2 separate regions of the Homo sapiens genome follow, and region 1 is linked to region 2. The links come from fine-mapping of genetic effects on gene expression. A gene starts in region 2. The other region holds a variant in brackets. All regions are shown on one strand. Distances are between the middles of the regions.

Evidence for each region. PIP is the estimated chance that this variant, and not a neighbour inherited with it, causes the effect.
Region 1: its variant is fine-mapped to the expression of EBF3 in spleen (GTEx, PIP above 0.99). The same link has a PIP of 0.9 or more in cerebellar hemisphere, liver, ovary and testis.

Annotation. Positions count from the first base shown.
Region 1 is chr10:129,789,770-129,795,141 of GRCh38, forward strand. LOC107984281 (a long non-coding RNA gene) reads left to right here. Exons shown (of 11, transcript NR_186705.1): 3 at 2,140-2,265. Among named protein-coding and RNA genes, the nearest start is that of MIR4297, 51 kb to the right of the region's middle. The variant T/A (reference allele first, on the strand shown) is at 2,267.
Region 2 is chr10:129,961,618-129,966,989 of GRCh38, forward strand. It overlaps EBF3 (EBF transcription factor 3), which reads right to left and starts at 2,657. Exons shown (of 17, transcript NM_001375380.1): 1 at 2,018-2,657; 2 at 1,750-1,906; 3 at 1,325-1,388; 4 at 554-609. The coding sequence starts at 2,151. RefSeq lists enhancers at 2,784-3,755, 4,791-5,372.

The DNA of each region.
Region 1 (5,372 bases), 170 kb before region 2:
ATTTCTCAAAAGAAGATACACAAATGGCCAAAAAACTATGAAAAAATGCTCAGCGTCACTAGTCATCAGGGAAATGCACATTAAAACCACGAGATACCACCTAACCCCGCAAGTATGGGCATTATTAAAGTTTAAAAAACAAAAGCTGTTGGTGTGGGTGGGGAAAGGGAATGCTTCTACACTGCTGGTGGGAAGGTCAATTAGTACAACCACTATGGAAAACAGTATGGAGATTCCCTACAGAACTAAAAGCAGATCTACCATTCGATCCAGCAATCCCACTCCTGGGTATCAACCCAAAGGAAAAGAAGTCATTATATGAAAAAGACACTTGCACACATATGTTTATAGCAGTGCAATTCACAATTGCAAAGATGTGGAACCAACCTAAGTGCCCATCAACCAATAAGTGGATAAGGAAAATGTGGTGTCTATACACCATGGAATACTACTGAGCCGTTAAAAGGAATGAAATAATGTATTTTGCAGCAACTTGGGTGGAGCTGGAAGCCATTATTCTAAGTGAAGTAACCCAGGAGTGAAAACTAAAAACCATACATTCTCGCTTATAAGTGGGAGCTAAGCTATGAATCCACAAAGGCATACAGAGTGATACGGACTTTAGAGACTCAGAAGCGGGAGGGTGGGAAGCAGGCTAGGGATGAAAAAAAAAAAAAGAAAAAACTACACATTAGGTACAACGGACACCACTCGGGTGATGGGTGCAATAAAATCTCAGAATTCACCGCTCTGTAATTCATCCATGAAACCAAAAACCACTTGTACCCCAAAAGCTATTGAAATTCAAAACTTAAATAAATGATGCCACATCGTTAGCCACGGGAGCTTATTTCTCAACTACAGTGAAATGCCACAAGCCTCCCCTTCTCCCGAGTCTCCCTTCTGTGATGTGGCATTTGAGACAGCATCCCAGGGCAGTGGTGGTGCCCAACTTATTACTAAGCTGCATTATTTGGTAAGTCAGAGATGGATCGCTTCTAAACAAGCTTACCCTTTTCCATAAAGATTAAAACACCACCACCAAAAAAGAACGAGATTTTTTTGAAGAAACAAACCCAGGCTGCAGGCCGAGGGAGCTGTCAGCATCGTTCATCCTCATGTTCGCTGGGCTGGGGGGAGGAACTGGCAGCTGTTCGCCAGTGATTCAGTTTTCTTCGTTGTGTGTTTCGTAAGTGGTTTTTAACCAGGCGCCCTTAAAATGTATTATTGTTAGAAAATAAACCAAGAAAGAAGGGATGGTAATTTAGTACTAGGAAGTTAATTCTGGAGGCCTCCAACCTTTCAGCAGTCATGTGGCTATTGATTTTCAATACCATGAGGTGGCGGCCACCCTAGGCGTGGGGTTCAGTGGATTCCAAACAGTTTCTCCCTTATCAGTTGAGTCCCTGAGTACTTGAGCATTAAGACAACAAATGTCCGGAGTTAACGGCGTGTCACATGGCAGCTGGGTGGACGTGCCAATTTTCTAATGAAGTTGGGTTGTTGGCAAACACACCAGTCATCATATATTGAAGGAGGTCTTCTTTTGTGTATTTCCAGCACTCTTGAGTGCTTCGAAAGATACCAGTTACATCATTGTCTGAGGGCCAGGCACCAAGGGAGAAACATCCGTCCCCTGCCAAGACAAACACAAGCAAAAGCAGAGTTAAAACCAAAATGGGGCTGGGTTTTCTTGGAGGTGTTGGAAATGTTTTTTCCAGTTGTGCTTAATGGGGGGATATTCGGAAGGAAAGCAGGGGCTCCTAAGTCCTCGTTTCTCTGCAACAAGAGGCACCAGGGTCTTTCCTTGCTCCCAACTTAGCTTGCACTCTGTGCGGGAGAATCAGCCTCATTTTTCTTCACATTGAAGAAAAACAGTCAATGCATTTTGGGTCCAAACCACTGTGTAGTGGAGGGATGACACAGGCTCTCAGATAAGCTGACCGCATCTATACCTCAGCAGACTCTGGGAGATCCTCACCATCTCTGCCCTCTTCCTCCACTCCCCACCAATAATAAATTAGGGCTGCCATCTTGTATTGATTACTGAAAATGTTATGTCCATGGGAAGAAAATGCCATTTCTTTAAATATCAACATTACAAGAGATTTAAATGCTTTGTTTTCTTTTGTTTTACAGAAATGTGTGTGTGAAAAAATTTTAAGCAATTGAAAGGAGCCGGGGTGTGGTGGGAAGAATTATTAAATAATAAAAAAAAAATCAATCCTCAGTTTGGCCTGGCCAGACGAGTGTTTCTCGGCTCAGG[T/A]AAGTAGTTTAAAGTCAGACATGTCTCATACTGGACTTTTTACAGGAATGGCAAAACTTATAATGAAATTCAACAAGGAAACTGGAAAAACAGCCAAATTGGTGCAGCAAAGTGGTTAATAGGATCATTAGCCTACTCGCTGTATTTTTTTGGACATTGTGTGCCTGTACTGCCGCACTCGAGAGCAGATTGCAGGAACAGGCTGACAGTTAGGAGCTAGCTCAGCAGTGCTGGGTACAAACTGCCATCTTCCTGTGGATTTACAGCTGCCACTTCTGCTACTTCAATTAGTTCTATGGCACACAGATGTTGCTTAAATGTTGCTGCTAATGATACTGCAATAAGCGTAAGATTCATGCCATATTTTGAGGCACGTAAATTTCTCAAGTGGCACAATTAAAGTGGAAATATTAGGTGGTGAGAACTTGGCAGTCTCTCCAACTTGGAAGGCGCACCCGCTATGCAATAATGGGTCAAAAATTCATTCAAGTTTTACTGCTGTTCCGAGTTTTAAAAGACTTTTCACAGTTGAATGCAAAGTAGTAAAAACCAGGGTATTAGGAAATGAGAATGCAGTTCTGTTATTCAGACATGACTTTTAATTTCAAATTGAAATCACATGCTCACTTTTCTGGATATGACCGAAGGGAAAAGGTACAGGCTGAAGAGATTTTGTCTTTAAGGGTAAAAGTCCCGAGTGGAAATGAATTTATTGCTGGGCCAGCCTCAAAATCAGCACTGTCCATGACTGAGGAAGTGTGGCGATCGCCTCCCACCCAGAGAAGCAGCCGCATTTGTACTGGAAGCCAAGTTCATCAGCAGCTCTCTCTCTATCCACCCCCGGACAGGGTCTCAAACCAGGGACTGGAGAAGTGTGTTGGGACAGGCACACACATGCACACATGTGCACACACTGTGTGTCCCACCAACACAACGCATGCACATTCACACACACACACTTGGTCTCTGCCTCATACACACATGCACACACACTTGGTCTCAGCCTGTTACACATTCACGCACACACGCTCCATCTCTCCCTCCTACACGTGCACACTCGCACATGCATGCACGGTCTCTGCCTCTTACACAGGTAGAGAAGAAAAAGACAAGTGGGCTTCCAGGAGTCTCACTTCTGCCTGCACGGAGTCTCCATTAGTATTTCTCTCCCTCATTTATCATCCCGGGCACAGTCCCCTGCCTGTCGCCAAATTTTCTTTTCCATGAAAAATCTCTCCTTCGGAGAAGAGCTTCTCCCTGACTGGTTGTCAAATACGCTTTTGATTTTCTCACACACCGACTTAAAAGGCAGGCGGTTCAGGGCAAAGCCGGCACCCAGTAGGCCTTTCTGCTTCTCGAATCTTTGACTGTGCAGGTTGTTCCCCCACCCCCACCCCATTTTAACTTATTGATTTGAACTGTCAAGTAAATGACTCCGTTGCACTTAATCAGAATCATAGACTTCTGCCATCCCAATTAGAATTCGAGGCCATGCACCGGAGCTCCACATGTGTGGCTCTGCTGGAGGGCTGGGCACAGCCCCTGCACCTAGGGCTCTCTGGTGCGATGGTTTGCAGGATAAATCCTGCCCTGGGAGCAAAGGCCATCTGCAGTAGGCATGCAAGCCGATGCTGTCCTGTAGGTATTTGCCAAATATTTATTTTTCCCTGAAATGATGCAAACGATTTGGTGAAGCCTTCCCATGACCAATTCAGGATGCGGAATGATTTAGCATTCAGTAAATTTCACAACACCTTTCTGCCTCCCTCTTCCCTCTCCCCTCTCCCCTTCTCCCCACCTCACCCCACCTCACCCCCTCCCTCTTCCTTCCTCTTTTCCTTCCCTCCTCCTTTCTTTTTTACCCTCTCCTGCCCCTGACCCGGTACCTATACCACTTGGATTATTTACAGCAAATCTTACAGATGTCAGTATTGTCTTGTTCTGAAGCTAAAAAGGACAATGAGTTCCCGCTGACCTCGGTACAATGGATCTCGCTGGAGCACAATATGTATTTTATACAGGCAGTGAAAAGCCTACAAGTAATTGAGAGAGAGAGAAATGTCACTGTAGCATTTCTGTTGACACTGCACTCTGCGTGTGGAGGGAAGCCCGGGGCCTGGCGGCAGAGGAGCAGCCGCAGCCGCGCTGTGCACCCAGGAACCTGTCCTTCAGGAAGGAGGCGGCGGTAGAAATTAATCTGCTCAGATTTTCCAACTAATGAAGTATTCCCAGGACCGAAGGGGCCACACAGAGACGTCTGCGGCGCTGCTTCCCATTCGCGCAGATGCACACGGATTCCGGGCCCAGCGCTAACTCGGATGTGTTTTCCAGCTCCGTTTATTGTCTTCCATAATGCTTAACGTACTGTTTGTATATGTTGTCCTTGCACTATATTTTGATATGCTCTCATATATTTTATTCATCTCTGGCTTTCTACGAAGGCAAGCTCGCAGCAACACTGAGAATAATTATTCTCCGCCATCAATCAAGAGTCTCCGTGGTTGGCTCCTCATGGGATGGCCTTGATTTTAAGCATGAAATGTAACTCTTGCTCTTTGGGGCCATTTCATTCTTTGTTCCTGGGGCCTGCCTGTGGGCTCGTCGGGACACTAGAGAGCAGGCATTCCCGTGGCCGCGGGAGAGCCGCGTTCCTGGCTGGCCATTCCCGGGCCCTCTAGAAGGGAGCGGCTGAGAGCTCTTTAGCCCTACTTGGGGTTTAAAAGTGAAAAAGGAGCAGCTCTTCCTGGTGGAAATTGCGAGCAGAGGCTGCGTGAGTTCCGTAACTCGCACACAGCCTCCATTTGGAGCCAGAATGAGCACGTGAGGGACCCCGGGCAGAGGGGCCAGTGCTGACATTATGCTCCATGCAACCTCCCATCCTGTTGTGGGAGATGGTGCAGACCAGGGGAGGGAGTCAGTGTGTGAGGGGATGAGGCTCCAGTCCTTTCCTGGGCACCAAAGCCAAATCCCCCCTGAGCACAAGGATCTTCCCTGGGTGACTGCAGAAGCAAGGAGACCTGGCCCACCGTCCCTGCTGGCTTCCTACTGCCCAGCCGCGTCTCTGCCTCCCTACCCCAAAGCCTGCAGCTCCTAAGTGCACTATTTG
Region 2 (5,372 bases):
TTTGAATTATGGAGCTGGGGGGCTGCGAGGTGAAGATGGACTAGAGGAGAACAAGGTGACTTTTCACCCCAACACATTTAACTTTTAAATCCAAATAAACGTCTCGTGTTACTAGACCATCACACTGGAAAGGAGAAAAAAAATGAACTAATCAAGTCCAACTCGATGGGCTTAGGAGTTAGCTGCCTTTGTTATAGGAAAAAAAATCCAAATGAACTGATTCCTAGCAGAGAGAGAAGCATTTAAAAATAAACAAGAGGGGGGACATCTTGAAATTTTTGTCAAATATTAATTACCATAATTAATTAAGACAGAATATGATTCCAATCACAAGACATTTAATAAAGCATATATGTCCTGTTCTAATGACAACATAAACTATTTTACCAATCGCTTCATTCATTCCAATAAATATGGAATTCTCATTAGCATGTCAAGGAAACTCAATGGAAAACAAATACACGAGATCCATTTGTCAGTGCCCTTGCCTCTGAAGCCCAGGACAACCCAGGCCCAGCAGTGAAAACTCGTGCAGAGGCATAAACTTTCTCACCTGTTTGGTCATTGAATCTATGAGGCGAACATACAGATCTTGCTCTGTTCTGACTCCTGCAAAAAAACAGAGACAAATTCTCATCAGGATTTGAGTGCTGCACCTCGGGGAGGGCACACGGAGCACAGGAAGTCTGTAACTCAGGACTGCTGCCACGGTGATGCAGCAGAACTTAGGCAATCCCTTTGAAAGGGAGAAAGAGAACCCCACCACTTCTCGCTTAATTTTTTTTTTCTTTTCTTAACTAAGAACCTTAAGGCTCTTAGGGCTTGCATTTCAAGGTGCAAGGAACTTGCCTGGTGGAGAGCAGGCCTGGTAGCTGTGTGCGGTGGGCCCATGTGGTCGTTTATTTTTAGAAAAGAAAAAGCACCAAATGGAAACTGAGTGAGAGGCTGAACTCTTTCTAATGTCTCTCGAGGATTTAAAAAAAAAAAACTCGTTCACAGGAAGTAAGTTATGCTCCGTTTATGGAGTTACCCCCATCCTAATAATTAACATTAATTTGCAAAATTGAAAAAAGTCACTTAAAAGTGATGTTCTGCTGGAGCCCGTATCGATCTTTTTCTTACTTTCTACTTCAAGCCCCACCGGTTAATCATGTGAAGTGCCATCGACTTATTGATCGTTTATGTTTTGTTTTCCTTCTATGCCATGAGAAGATTTCGTGTTTACATCCATGTCATTTTAATCTCAAATCTTTATGTCCTTTCACCAGCGCAGAAAAGGAGAGCCAGCCGCTGCAGGGGCGGCGAGCACGCAGCAGGCACTTACCGTTGCTGTACAATAACTGGAGTTTATAGTGGATGCCGTTGTTGGTTTTCTCGTTGTTTGGCTCCTGAAAGTAACGATAAATAATTGCATTTAGTGCGATCGGTGTCAGGCGCGGCCACCACGCTCGGTCCCCCTCCGCGACCGAGGCTCTCGGCCTCACACATGGCAGGATTCCTAGCTCGAAGCAGCGCGGTGATGTCACTTTCCTGCTGGAAGCCCAGCGTTCTCCTCGCCCCGAGTAAGTCCGAGGGCGCAGAGAAGTTGCCCAGCCCTCGGCGGTCCCGGGCGGCCGCACGTGGCGGCGGCGGGGTGGCCTGGCGGAGCCGAGCCCGCCGCCTAGGGGGGCACTCGAACCCCCGCGCACCGGCACCGCCTGCCTCCCGCTTCTAGAAAGAGAGAGGGTGTGATCGTGTGTTTGCACTTACTTTCTCTTTCTCCACAAAGTCCACAAAAGCGGTCCTTTCAATCTCCACCGGCTGCCCCTGCCTATCGTAGAGCGCCAGCACGAAGTGGAAGAAATTGGATTTCCGGAGGTTGGAAGGCGGCTGCTTCTCGAAGTGCGCCCGCGCCAGCCCCACGCCGCTGCGGGAGGAAAGAGACAGCGGCCCGGTGAGGAGCGCGGCGCCGGCCGGCGGAGGGGGCCGGGCCGGGCCGGGGCCGGGGCCAGGGCGCGCGGGGGCGGCCGGTACGTACCTCTGGGCGGCCGTGTTGGCGTCCACCACGCCCGCCGTGTGCATCCACGAGCGCACCGGGTTCATGCCGCTGCCCAGCGGCTCCTCCTTCATGGTCGTCCCCCCGCGCGGAATATTCTCCTGAATCCCAAACATGAAAACTGCTGGCGGCGGCCGCAGCTCCCGGCCGAAAGCGTTTCCTCGAGCAGCGGCGCTCGGGGCTTGGCGGCAGGCGGCTGCCCTGGCCGCCCTCGCCCTGCTCGGCGCCTGCGGTCCGGCCCCGCCGCCGGCTTCAGCCCGTCCCGGGCAGGCGCGACATACACCAGCGGCCGGGCGCTCCGGACGGCCAGGGGCGCGGAGGCGGCTCCACCGGCGGCGGCGGCGCTTCGAAGGAGCAGGACGCGGTGGCCGCGGCGGCGCTTGTTGTTGTTGTTGTTTGCAGGCGCGCTCAACGTGGTGTCATCCTAGCCAGGCGGCGTCCGCGGCTGCAGGACACTGCGGGATCGCCCGCTTCTGGCGCGGCCCGCCTGCTCCAAAGACAAATAAACGGGGCAGTGAGTGCTGCGGCGCAGTCCCGGGCGCAGGCGGGGCGCGGCGGGGCCTGGAGCGGCGCGCGCAGCGGACGGAGGCGCACAAAACTCAGCCCTCTCTCCCCGAGGAATGGACCCTTTCCCGGGAGCCAAAACTCGAAGCCCCCGGGAGCGGCGCTGTCAGAGGGTGACGTCGGGGGGCGGTGCCTGCGCCATATATGGGAGCGGCCGCCCCTCGCCGCGCCCCTCGCCGCCGCCGCCGCCGCGCTCGCCGACTGACTGCCTGACGGCGCCGCGAGCCGGCCCGAGCCCCGCGAGCCCCGCGAGCCCCGCCGCCGCCGAGCGCCACCGAGCGCCGCCGCCGCCCCCCGCCACGCACCGCGGCTCCTCGCGTCCAGCCGCGGCCAAGGAAGTTACTACTCGCCCAAATAAATCTTGAAAAGAAACAAACGCAGCCACTGCACAATTGCAGTTTGGCCCCTTAATACCTCCCTGCAAAACCTGCCACACAGTCGAACACGATGGGCGGGGCGGGGGGCTGTAAAATGCTGAGGCGCCCCAAGTTGCCCAGATGCATGCAATAAATGCAAGGGGCTGCAGCTTGTCCTGGGGCCGCCCGAAGGAGAAGTGGGAAGAGGCAGGTCGACCGCAGGGAGGGCGCCGGAGGGAGGAGCGGGCAACGGACTGGGAGGAGGGGTGCCCAGGGCTCCCCGGCCAAGGCTGGACGCGCAGCTCAGCCTGATTTCTAAGCAGACCTAAGGCTGCTGCAGGGCCGGCCGGTCCCGGTCTGAGCCCCGCCAGGTACCCCAAGCTTCCTACCCCGGCGGAGGCCGCCGAGTGCCGGGCAGGGAATCACGTCGGAGGCAGGGTCTGCCAGATGCTCCCTCTCCCCCGGTGGCCGCGGCAGACCCCGGCCCCTGGCCTGTTCTTACGCACAGCGAGTGACAAAGAAGGCTCCGGTCTCTCCGGGCCGACGGGAAGCGCGCCCGGCCTCTCCGGCGACCCGGAGCCGGGTGTCTGGCTGCGCGACCTGCGCGGTGGCCAGACCGCCCTGGAGCCAACTGCTCCAAAAACCAAGCGGACGCCGCGGGCGCTGTGGCCCGGCCCTCGGAGCCGCCGGACCCGGGTGAGCGCGCGGCGCGCGGCTTCCCGACCTGGTTTCTAGGAATCGGGAGGGCAGCCGGGCGCGGGCAGACTGTGGGCCCCGCGGCCCAGCTCCTGTAGCCGGGACTCCGCGCCCAGGAGCGCGGCCCGCCCAAAGGACGTCTGCGCGACACGGAGCAGAGACCCAGGGGACGACCAGGAACTGTCCTAGGCACTTCCCTGCCAAGAGAAATCAGGCCCTTTTGATTAAAAGAAAAAAAAAAAAAAGATTGCAGGGCGCAAGTGTGTTGCAGGGCAGCCTCCTCCCGCCGGGTCTGGGGCAGCACTCCCTTTTCCCGTGAATTGGCAGCGTGTGTACGTTAATATTTTAATTAATCGGGAAAGTCGAAGTCCGATTCACGTTGTCTGGGGACCCCCACGCCTCTTGGAAGGAGTGAGAAAAAAGATGTGTTGGAAAGAGATCTATTTTGCTGGTGTTGGGGGTTAATGACTATTGCCAAAGATAAGTGAATTATCAAAGCTGTTGCGCCAGTCCCATCTCAAAATCCATTACGGTGCCGGCCGTCTAATTAAATACGTAAGTATAATAAAATCATATTTTATGACTATTTGAGGGTAATGAGATTAGTCTTTAGAAGCGATAGCCACATATTAAAGATGCCACTGTCTATAGAATGTTAATAACCTTAAATCAAAGTGTATGGAAACTGTTCATGATAAATTAAAAGAAAATTTCTGTATTCCTAATAAGCCCAGCGCTTTCCACTCTCGGCAGACACTGGTGTAGGAGGGAACACTTTCTTCGTGGAGAAACAACGCAAAATAAAGTTGGCCATCGAGGGAGGGTGGGGTTGAGAAACGCTTTGTCTCTGCGTGTTTAGCTGCTTCGGGGGCTCACGCAGGGCAAGCGGCCAGGCAAGCGTTATTGTCAGAATATGCAAAGTGCCTTTTCGGGAAAGATGAAGTTGGAAATAGGAAACAATGCTTCCTTTATAGCACACTTCCTAAAATGTCCAGCCTGTGCTAGAGGTGCCCCTTCCTTGCGCTAACGAAAGTATCATGCTTAAAATCATTTACAGTATCTTTAATTCAGATTACACGCGCCAAGGCGATTTAAATCTGATTACCAAATTAGAAGGTTTAAAAACAAATCCTTCTAAATCTGATACTGTTGACTAAAGAGGAAAAAAAAGTTCTATAAGCCCATCACATAAGGTAACGATCCTGCCCCAGAAAGAAAAGGGGTTTTAAACCTTTTTGACAACAAATGCAGCTGCCCCACTATTTTGGACGATATTAAGCGAAAATGAATGCAAATCTGTGTTCAGCAGCCATCTGGCCCGAAATGGGGGAATCAGCTGCTCTCACAACAGGCTCGGAGGCTGAATCCATTTCAGCTCATTTTCTAGATCATCTGGTCCCGCACCCAAAGCGTGGAAAATACGGTCTTTATCATTCACCAACTTTATCTTTTTTGTCACTCCGCTGCTGGCTCCGAGCTGTGGGCACAAGGACTCGCCTACCGGGCAGGGTCTCCACCTCGGCCTGCTGCGGAGCGGCCTGGGAGGGTACCCCCTGGTCCCCCACCCCATCCCACCCTCAGATTTTCGACTTGATGGGGCAGGAGCAGCAGCAGAGGGGAGCAAGGGACACCGCAGCCAGGCCAGGGATGGGGAAGGGGGCTGCAGGCCAAATCCCAAGTGTCCTGAGTAACGCTGGGAGCGCGTCCCGGCGCTTGGCCAC